Linked DNA regions of Homo sapiens: region 1 is linked to region 2. Evidence: fine-mapped expression QTL. A gene starts in region 2. The other region holds a variant in brackets. All regions are shown on one strand. Distances are between the middles of the regions. Region 1 overlaps KIAA1755. Region 2 holds the start of KIAA1755.

The links. PIP is the estimated chance that this variant, and not a neighbour inherited with it, causes the effect.
Region 1: its variant is the best candidate, but not a certain one, in a credible set for the expression of KIAA1755 in testis (GTEx, PIP 0.70).

What each region holds. Positions count from the first base shown.
Region 1 is chr20:38,233,740-38,239,117 of GRCh38, forward strand. The region is part of intron 4 of KIAA1755; the gene reads right to left. Among named protein-coding and RNA genes, the nearest start is that of KIAA1755, 24 kb to the right of the region's middle. The variant C/T (reference allele first, on the strand shown) is at 2,935.
Region 2 is chr20:38,257,879-38,263,256 of GRCh38, forward strand. It overlaps KIAA1755, which reads right to left and starts at 2,857. Exons shown (of 14, transcript NM_001029864.2): 1 at 2,620-2,857. The coding sequence starts at 2,622. LOC149684 (a long non-coding RNA gene) reads left to right here and starts at 2,297. Exons shown (of 2, transcript NR_104170.1): 1 at 2,297-2,478. RefSeq lists an enhancer at 2,615-3,114.

The DNA of each region.
Region 1 (5,378 bases), 24 kb before region 2:
AAGCTTCTGGACCTGGCATTGAAGTGTCTCAGGCTCTGCACACTCTTCCATCCTCATTTCATACACTAGGTGTTAGGGGCGAAGCTGTGTCCCCTGCCCCTCCAAATTTATATGTGGAAGTCTTAACTCCCAGTACATCAGCATGTGACTGTATTTGGAGATAGGGTGTTTAAAGAGGTAATTCAGTTAAAATGAGGTTACTGTGGGCCCTAATAGAATATGGCCAGTGTCCTTACAAGAAGAAATTTGGACACAGAGGGAAGACCCCATGAAGATACAGGGAGAAGATGGGCATTTGCAAGCCAAGGAGAGAGGCCACAGAAGGAAACAACCCTGCCAACACCTTGATCTTGGACTTCCAGCCTCCAGACCTATGAGAAAATGAATCTCTGTTGCTTAAGCCACCCACGTTATGGCAGTCCTGGGACACTAATATACTAAGTCTCCCCTTGCCACCAATGACAGATGATACCACCCAGCTTTGTTCACCCTATTCCTTCTGCCAGGTATGCCCTTCTGTCCTATCTCTATCTGGTGAAATCCCCCTCATCGCTCAAAGACTAGCCAAGATGCCACCTCTTCCTGGAAGACCTCCTTACTGCCTTCCCTCTTTAGAAGCTCTTCCCCAGTCCCAGGTTCCCAAAGCAAATGTAGGCCTCTGTGAGATCCTGCAAGACTGAGAGCCCTTACGGGTGTGCACTGGGTCAAACTCATTGTTGCATCCCTGTGCTCAGCACAAGGCTGGATAATCAATGTCTGTGATTGATTCATGAAGGAATGGAGGGTTAGAGCAACACCTCTCAAACTTTGATGGGCCTGGGGATCTTGTTAGAATGCAGATGCCAGTTCAGCAGGCCTGAGATTCTGCCTCTCCCCCTAGCTCCAAGGTCACGCTGATGTAGGTAGTCCCCAGACCACACTTTGAGCAGCAAAGGGTTCACACACTCAGGACATTCCACACTGGGACACAGTAGTCATACGATTAGTTCACATGTCTGGTTCCCCACACTGCCTGGAACAGGGCCCTGCACACACCCAGTGCCAGCTGAGTTGATTACAGCAAGGGGCAGTTGTCCACCTGATTTGTCTTCAGCTGGGCCAAGGAGACCCTTTTGCCCCAAATGTTATCCTCACCTACCAGCTGGCGCCAGAAATACCATCATTAGCATCTCAGAACCGTGGCTTGAAGCTGTGCTGTTCACAGATATTGTGAGCCTCAGGTGAAAATGAGGATGGCAAAATGAGGGTGGTGGGTAAGTCGGGGTTGCCCAAAGTTGCTGAAAAATGTGTTGCATCTGCCAGCAGCATGAAGAGTCACTCCAAGTTTGGGGAGGGAGGAATGGTAAGTAATTGAATTTGCAAGCAATTAAAAGCATTTTTTCATATCAAAACGAGTGTGAATGTATTCTATTTATGGATATTTAAAATGTATAGAAATTTTAAAGGCAAAAAGGATTTCAAAGATCTATATGGAGCAACTGAGAGCTCAGGGTGAGGTCTCAATCTCAGGGGCTCTGTTCATTCTCTTCTGCATTAGGGATTTTCCAGTGGAAAGACAGGGAAGCCCTCTCCTAAGGCTTCGTGCCTGTGGCCCCAAAGATGTCCATGCCCTAATCCCCAGAACCTTGAATATGTTACCTTACATGGCAAAAGGGACACTGCAGATGTGATGAAGGGCAGGACCTTGAGGTGGGGAGATTATCCTGGATCATCCACTCTAATCATAGGAATCCTTAAAAGCAGAGAACTTTTCCTGGCTTTGGTAGGAGCAAGGTGCCAAGATGGATGGGGGGTGAGGGAGATGCAACATTGCTGGCTTTGAGGATGGAGGAAGGGGCCACAAGCCAAGGAAAGTAGTGGTCTCTAGAAGCTGGAAAAGGCAAGGAAATGGAGTCTCCCTTAGAGCCTCCAGGAAAGAATGCAGCTCTGCAGACAGCTGGATGTAGCCTAGCGAGATCCATGTTGAGCTTCTAACATACAGAGCGATCAGATAATACATTTGTGTTGTTTTACGTCACTAATTTGTAATAACTTGTTATGGCCACAATGGGAAACACAGTGCCTATTAAACAAAACCCCATCCCCAGCATGGGAGCAGACATTCACACCTGCATGTTGATCAGTTTCTTTCCTGAGAACAGATCTTTATGAAAACTTTACGGGGAGACCTGCTTCACAGGGCTGGCTTGGAGCAGATCTAGATCTTGAAGCACAGGCTCTGGGGACTGTTTGCCCTATAAGGAAACTCCAACAGAGGCCGGTGTGGACGCAGAGACACCAGCGAGGAGACCACTGCAGCAGGCAAGAGACCACGCTGGTTTGGACTTGGGTGGGGTGAAGTCAACAGATTCTGAATACAATTTAATGGGAGAGTTGACAGTTAACAAATTGAATGTGGGATGTAAGAGAAAGAGCAATCAAGGATGATGTGGTCATCTTTTACTGCCATGAGGAAAGACTGGAAGGTTGGGAAGTGTGGGGTGAGGGGATGTGAAGTCAGGAGTCCATATTTGGGCATGCTAAGTTAGAGATGTCTGTGAGACCTCCACGCAGAGACATCAAGTAGTAAACAGCTGGATGGATAAGTCTGGAGTTCATGGCCAGGGCCCAGGCTGGAAAAATCAGTGTCGGGGTTGTCAGCCTGGAGAGAGCATTTACAGAAAATATTCCACCTCCAGGATGAGATCGCCTAGGAAGTGAGTGTGGATGGAGAGGAGAAAGGGACCAAGGACTGGGCTTTGGGGGCCCTCCAGGATTTACAGGTTGTGGAGATGAGGAGACAGGAAAGGAGGCTGCAAAATTGTGGCCAGTGAGGTGAGAGGAGGACTGGGTGACTGAAGATCTAATGGCAAGTGAAGAAAGCCTTTCAACAGGAGGAAGTGGCCATCCATGCCAAATGCTGCGGAAGGGCCTAGGGTGATGAGGACTGAGAAT[C/T]GACCCCTGGATCTAGAAACATGGAACGCAATGACGACCTTGACAAGACGTGTCTCAGTGGCACAGTGGGGAAGGGATTCTGATTAGAGTGAGTGGAAGAGAGAAGGTGTGGAAACAGGGAACACAGACAACTGCTTTGTGGAGTTTTAATGTAAAAGGGTGAGGGTGGGAACACGGGGGCCTAGAATAGCTCATTTCAAGCTGGGCAATATTGCAGCGTGTTCTCATCCTGATGGGAATGGCCCAGAGCCAAAGAGGAAAGATGATCCTGTAGGAAGGAGAAGAGAATCTTGCTGGAGGGATGTCTTTGAGGAGGTAAAGAGGAACAGAGCACGGGTTCAGGGTCAGCCTCAGGCACATGGACAATTCATCCATACTAGAATGCTGAGCCTGTGGGTACAGATGCCAGCAGGTAGGTGAATGACCTTCCTTCTGGTCTGACTGAGTAAGCAGAAGCAATTCATAGACTTCCTTCCAATTGCTTCTGCTTACTCACTCAGACCAGAAGGAAGGTCATCAGCTGAGATTTAAGTTGGGGAAGGTGGTGTTGAAGGTCAAAGGAGAGAGAAGGTGTGAAGTCATCACACAGGACTGTGGGGGAGTCATTCAGGACTCTGGAGGTGAAGTAGGATCCACTAGCACCATTGGGACCCCCAGAGGTCAGTGGTCAGGAATTCAACACAATTAGCCTGCACAATTGTGTGGATTTTTCCAGCTTCGTTCAGCTTGAGGGTGCAGGTGGAGAGTTGGATCTCACGGAGGTTGGGATTTATCTGGGTAAGTGTGAAGGTGGAAGAGGAAAGCAAGCGAGTGAGTGTTTGAAAGGAAGTGATTACAATGTGAGCCTGGAATCTAAGCTAGGAAGAAGGGATGTGAGGATGTGACAGAAGGTGGGGGAGACATAATGATGGGGAAGGGATGTGGTGGAGAGTGAGGAAGATATGATGATGGGGAAGGGATGTGGTGGAGGGTGGGGAGACATGCTGGAAAAGGGGAGTGAAAAGGTGGTTGAACCAATAGGTTCAAGGTTTTGGGAGGCCTGAAGATGATGAAACTTGGGGCAGTGGGTGACCTGGAAAGAGAAGCAGTGGTAATAAAGGAGAGGGAGCCTTAACATGAAAACCCGGCGGGGAGAAGTTGGTTACGGGGGATGCGATGGGGGGAGTCATGTGGGGAATGAGGACAAGATCACTAGAGAAGAGCAGGACAAAAAACGGACAGAAGGAGCACGCATGTGGACGTTGCTCATTCACACAGCAAATGCTTTTTGCACACATGCTACACATCAGGCATGTGCGAGCTAACAGTGCATGTTGCAACCCCCAAGAATTACAACAAAAGTAACTGAGGGAAGAGTGACAGTGAGCCAGGTCCTATCTGTCTATTCTCCTCCTCTCAAGGAGGCCCAGAGAGGGCAGTGACTTCTCCAAGGACACACAGGGAGCTAATGATAGAGTTAGAACTAAAACAAAGGTCACCTTCCTCCCATAGCAGAGCCTTCCATGGACAAAATCTGAGCCCTTGGCCCATGATGGCCCTAAGAGGATCATGAGATCCTTTGTGTACAATTAATATGGAACAAACAGCAGGAGCTTCAGCAAAGATGACCAGGAAAATGACAGATAAGGTCTCCTGGGAGCTGCAAAAAGACAGGGCAGTGCTCAAGGTCCTGAAGAGATATGGAAGTCTGTGAAGTAAAATAGTATTTCAGGACAATCAGTCTCCAGAAAGCACTGTGGTTCTCTTGTCTCTGGACCTTTGCACATGCTGTTCCCTTTGTCTGGAACGCCGTTCCCAACTCTTCACCTGGATAATTCCTACTCATACCATAGGACTGGGCTTTACGTTACTTCCTCCGGGAAGTCATCCTTGACCTCTACTACCCTAAGCCTGAACCAGGGGACTCATCTGTGCTCCCACAGCCCCCTGTCCTTCCCAACTGTCACACTTTGTTTACACTGGGTTTCAATAATCTGTTGTGATAACCTGTTGGCTTTTCCCCACCACTAGAATATAGGTTTCCTGATAGCAGAGAACACATCAGACTTGTTCTCTTATGAATCGCCAGTGCTAAGCCCAGGAACCAGTAAATGTCTGTTACAACAATGGGGAAATATTAAATACGAGTGATAAGACCTTCTGTATTGGATGCTGCTAGTACCCCAAACCCAGATCCCCTCAGCAGGCAGAGAACCCATCCCCAGAGTCTGAAAGTATCAGTTGTCAGTGGCTCACAGATGCCCCCTCTCTGAAGAAGCACTCTGGGCTGAACTGGATCACTGGCTCCCCCTGCCCCACCCCATTCCAGGATCAGCCCGAAGTTCCTGCAGTTCATTAATGACGGACAGACTGGGGATCAGCCCACAGTTAATGACTGACAGACAAGGCTTATAAAAGGCCAGTCCCCTACACCTTCAGCTGGAGCCAGCTCTGTGGGGCGGGTC
Region 2 (5,378 bases):
GAGTACATATTTTTATAGTTACTTTTTTTTTTTTTTTTGAGACAAAGTCTCGCTCTTGTCCTCCAGGCTGGAGTGCAATGGTGCGATCTCGGCTCACTGCAACCTCCGCCTCCGGGGTTCAAGTGATTCTCCTGCCTCAGCCTCCCGAGTAGCTGGGATTACAGGCACCTGCCACCATGCCCGGCTAGTTTTTTCTGTTTTCAGTAGAGACGGGGTTTCACCATGTTGGCCAGGCAGGTCTTGAACTCCTGACCTCTGGTGATCCGCCAGCCTCGGCCTCCCAAAGTGCTGAGATTACAGGCGTGAGCCACTGCGCCCGGCTTAGTTACTTTCTATTTATGACAATGGATACTGATTTTTTCATGGTTGTGATATAAAATTTTCTATTTAAATATATTTTTCAGTGTACAAAGTAAGTTGATTTAAAGAAAAATATTGAGCAAATAATAAGTAGTAGATTTTATCATTTTCTTATATATTTTATCCAGTAAGTGGATGTGTAAAAGTTGTTTCAGTGATACTAACATTTGGGAACCATGGGACAGGATCAACCCTAAGCCCCTTTGCCATAAGATTCTCTGACATGGGGGTGCCCCCAAACACTAGACAGCTGTTAATCAAATGCCCCACAAAAATTACAGCTATGATGGGTTATCATAAAGGAAAGATACATGACATGCTAGAGTAAGAGTCAGGGAAATCAGGGAAGGCTTTCCTGAAGAGGTGACATTTGGGTGAAGATTTACCGGGTAAATAAGAATTCATTAGGTGAAGGTATTCCTCCAAGCAGGAACAGCATGTGCAAAGGCCCTGGGGCAGCAGGGAGCGTGAACCATAAGAGGCTCGCAAGCAAGGCTGGAGTGGCTGGAGCACAGAAGTGAGGCCAGGGAGGTAGGCTGGCAACAACCTTTATTCTTTAAAAAACAGGCAAGGGAAGGAAATCTGCACATTGTTCCCAATCTGGAAAGAGTTGCTCACCCTTTGACAGGGGGCAGACCAGTGCCTGACCCTTGATCTGAGGATCTGGGGTTCAATGAGGGGTTTCTAATGACTAGGTTAGGTGTGAAAGCAGGAGAGGCTTGGCAAACACCAGGTGCACGCTGTGGCCCTGGAGTGACCATGACCGCCGAGTGCAGGCTCAGAATTCAGACTGTCCTAACTTGCACTTTCTGGGTGGGGTGACCTTGGGCAGCTACTTAAGTTCCCAGAGCCTGAGGTCCCCATCTGTTGGAGATAGCCGCAGGTCTAATCTTAGAGTTGGTATGAGTTACTGACTCCTGGATGTAAATCACCTAGCACAGGGCCTTGCCTGTAGGGAGAGGTGAATAACCACTGGCTTATGAGAGTATTTTCAAACAGCTCCAAGAGCCATGTGTGTGTACACCTGTCCCCGCAGTGCATGGATGTAGGTGCCCGGTTTTGCAATATGTCTGTGGTGTGTATGCCAATGTATGCCCATAGTTTAGCAGTATGGGGGAGCAGGTGCAGAAGGCATGGGTGTATGAGAGGGTGTGAACATGTGTTCAGCTGTGTGAGTCAGTGGGAGCATTCAGGTGTGCTCTGTGCGTGCATGTGTATGTGTGTGTGCATGTGTACGTGTGTGTGCATGTGTACGTGTGTGTGAGTGCCTGCGTGTGTGTGTGTGTGTGTGTGAGAGAGAGAGAGAGAGAGTATGAACACCTCTATATGGAATTCTTCTGCTTGTGGAGATGCATTTGCTGTGAGTGAAAACCCACACAAATTCAACATGGTTGGTCACAGTCACAGGGTTAAAGCCTTGGCCTGTCTTCACAGCTTTTTTCAAAATCCTTACAGCCCCTGTGAATCTGCCTGGGGCTCTTGTATCTGTCTGGAGCTGGGCTGAAATCCTCCAAAAACAGACTTTTCTTTCATTCCCTGTTGCCAGATACTGGCACAAACGCATCCCTGCCACCACCACCACCACACACACACACACACACACACACACACACACATTCTCCCAGAATGTCTCAACTTTTTTCAAGGTTCCAGCTCCAAAAGTCCCTTCCTCTTCCCTCTCCCCAGCCAATTCCCATGGAAGCACCCTGGGTTTCAATGTGTATATCTGACTTTCCATAGCTGAGTCTAAAACAGCAAAAGCATCCCAAGTTTTGGTAAGCAGTTCTCTCCTTTTCACCCTGGACCCTTAACCCTCCTCGCCCTGCACTGCCTGGCTGGCCTGGGAGGGGACTTTAACCCCCACCACCACTCTTCCCCATCCAAACTCCCTGCCGGGACAATGTGCATATCACAGTCAGTTCCAAAACAAACATGCAAAACCACCCCGTTTCAGCCCTCAGCCTCAGGGCTGAGATTCAGGCTCAGGTCTAGGGGTTGGGGAATATTAAAGTTTACAAGTACAATCTTACTCCATCCATACACACACATGGAGAAGCCAGGAGAGGACGCGGCCAGAGATGGGCTCCTGCCCTTGAACCCCTGCTGGGGTGGAAGCAGGTAAGCACAACCCTGCCAAGGCACTGAGGGTCGTCTCAGTGTAAAAGGCCAGGGCCACCCGGGGCTGTTCTGCAGGGAATGGGGAGGGCTGTGCCCACTGAAAGGGGGCAGAGCGAGGTGGTCCAGGCCTTGGCGCGTTACCATGGTGACGGGCTGCCAGCGGCGGGCGGCGCGGCTCCTCTCCTGGGCGCGGGGTCTGTGGGTCCGCGGGTCCGTCTGTCTGGGGCAGCCCTCGGTCCCGCCTAGCCCTGGAGCCAGGGGATAGGGCAGGCCCGGGGCACCGACCCCGGCGTCATCTCGGAGGAGCGGCCGGGGAGGACAGGGAGAGAGACTGAGAGAGAGACAGAGAGGGACTGAGGCTGGAGACGGCGAGAGACATAAGGGAGCCGCGGGCGGCGCGGGTCGGGCCACCAGACGGGGGGCGGCAGCAGAGGCGGGGCGGGGCGGGGCGCGGCGGGACAGCGGCCCCTTTGTGCCTGAGCCCTTTGTGCCCAGCCCGCGCGCCCCGCCCCCACCGCCCCCCCTTCCCTCCGTCCACCCCCTCAGCAGCCAGCTGGAACCCGAGGAACCCGAGTCCGCCCCGCCAAGTTTTCCTCCCCGCTCCTCGCTCTTCCCACGGCGCACCCGGCCCGGACAGCCCCATTGTACAGACCCGCAGAGCGAGGCCTCGAGCCGCAGCAGCCGGGTTAAGCGCCCGCGGACCTCGCTGGCAGGCCCAAGTTCGAGTCTCCTCCTCCTACACTTCCCAGGGAGTCACAGACTCTCTTAAGCTTCGATTTCTTCATCTGTAAAATGGGGTGGGAGGAGGATGATGATGATGATGATGATGATGATGATGATGATGATAGTGCCTGCTGCTTAGATTTGGTGATGAGGAGTAAGCATCTGTCCCAGCGCCCTTGAATTCTCCCACATTATGCCCCATCATGACGGCCTAATTCAAGGCTTTGAGGTGATGATGGCTGTGTGCGAGTTCTGTTCTTGACTCTCAGATAATGACCTTGGCCAAGTCGGTATTTCCTACTGAGCCTCAGCTTTGGAGTGAGACTAAGAAACTAGATGACCGCTAGGGTCTATATGTGTGTGTCCCCTCCCAAATTCGTATGTCCAGACCTAATCCTCAGTATGATGGCATTAGGAGGTGGGGCCTTTGGAAAGTGATTGGGTCATGAGAGGACAGAGCCCTCACGAATGGGATTAGTGCCTCTCTCTATATATATATATACACCTACATATATATACCTATATATATACATATATACACCTATATATATACATATATACACCTATATATATACATATATAGGCACTAATATGTATAGGCATATATACACACACATATATATACACACACATATATATACACACATATATACATATATATACACACACACGCACACACATATATATTTGAGATGGAGTCTCACTCTGTTGCCCACCCAAGCTGGAGTGCAGTGGCATGATCTCAGCTCACTGCAACCTCTACCTCCCAGGTTCAAGCAATTTTCCTGCCTCAGCCTCCCGAGCAGCTGGGATTTTAGGCACCCGCCACCACACCTGGCCAATTTTTGTATTTTTAGTAGAGACTGCATTTCGCCATGTTGGCCAGGCTGGTCTCGAACTCCTGACCTCAGGTGATCTGCCCACCTCACCCTCCTAAAGTGCTGGGATTACAGGCGTGAGCCACCATGCCCAGCTTAGTGCCCAAGAGGCCCCAGAGAGCTAGCTGCCTTGCCCCTTCCACCATGGAAGGACACAGCGAGAAGGGGCTGTCTATGAACCAGAAAGGCCCAGAAACATAAGGTCCAGAAAGAAGGCTCTTACCAAACACCCAACTTGCTTGTGCCTTGATCTAGGGCTTCCCAGCCTCCAGAACTGTGAGAAGAGAATTTCTGTTGTGTATAAGCCCCTCAGTCTAAGGTATGTTGTTATAGCAGCCCAGACTAAAACAGTGACCAAAGTTATTCCTGGTTAGATGGCTCAGGGTTTTGTCCATTTATTTATCAAACACTGTGCACTGAGTCAGCCTGTCTCCCCCACTAGACTATACATTACTTGAGAGTCCCGGCCCTCAAGTAATGTACAGTCTAGTGGGGGAGACAGGCAAGGAGCAGATAAACAGGAAAAATAAAAAAATAATAACTGTGGTAACTGCTAAGAAGGAAACAAACAAATGTTGACATTGGGAACAGTAGAGGGATCAACTTATAGCTGGTGGTCTAGGAAGCCTGGGTCTGAAAGCCTAGATCTGAAAGGGGAGGAATTAGAAGAGTGGAGATGGGGAGACGCAGAGGAACCAAGTTCTAAGCAGAGAGAACCGCATATGCAAAGGCTCTGAGGCAATATTAAGCTTAAAGGAGCTGGGGAGTAAGTGAAGAACTGAAAAAGACGAGTGTAGTTGTAAGGGTTAGAGTTCAGACCCAAGCCTTATTCACAGCCCATCTCCCACCCCACATAGGTTAATCAGTCTTTTAGCAGAGAAAACCTGAATTAGGAGCCATCCTATCCCAACTTTTGATAAGTTCCTTCACATCCCCGACCTTCACTTGCTTATCACTAATTTGGGACTAATAATCCCCTGCAATATTTCCACAGCCCAGCAATCAAGTAAACTCTCTCTACAGGAGATGGTCTGGATGGTTTTAGTATCATGACTCCAGATGTGAATTTAGGAGAGAACAGACTTGATGTTCAGTACAGAATTCCACTGAGAGTTGTGGGGTCACAGCTTGAAGGTTTTAGAGTCCCAGGTTGCCATGAGACAGAATTGACATGACAGCCAGCGTTCTGGGGTTGCAGGCAACAGAAGCGGATTCTGAGTTAATTAAGCAGAAAAGAATGGATTGGCAGTCAGAGAATCAATGCGAAGGCTGGGGCCTATCCTCTGGAAAGCACTGGAG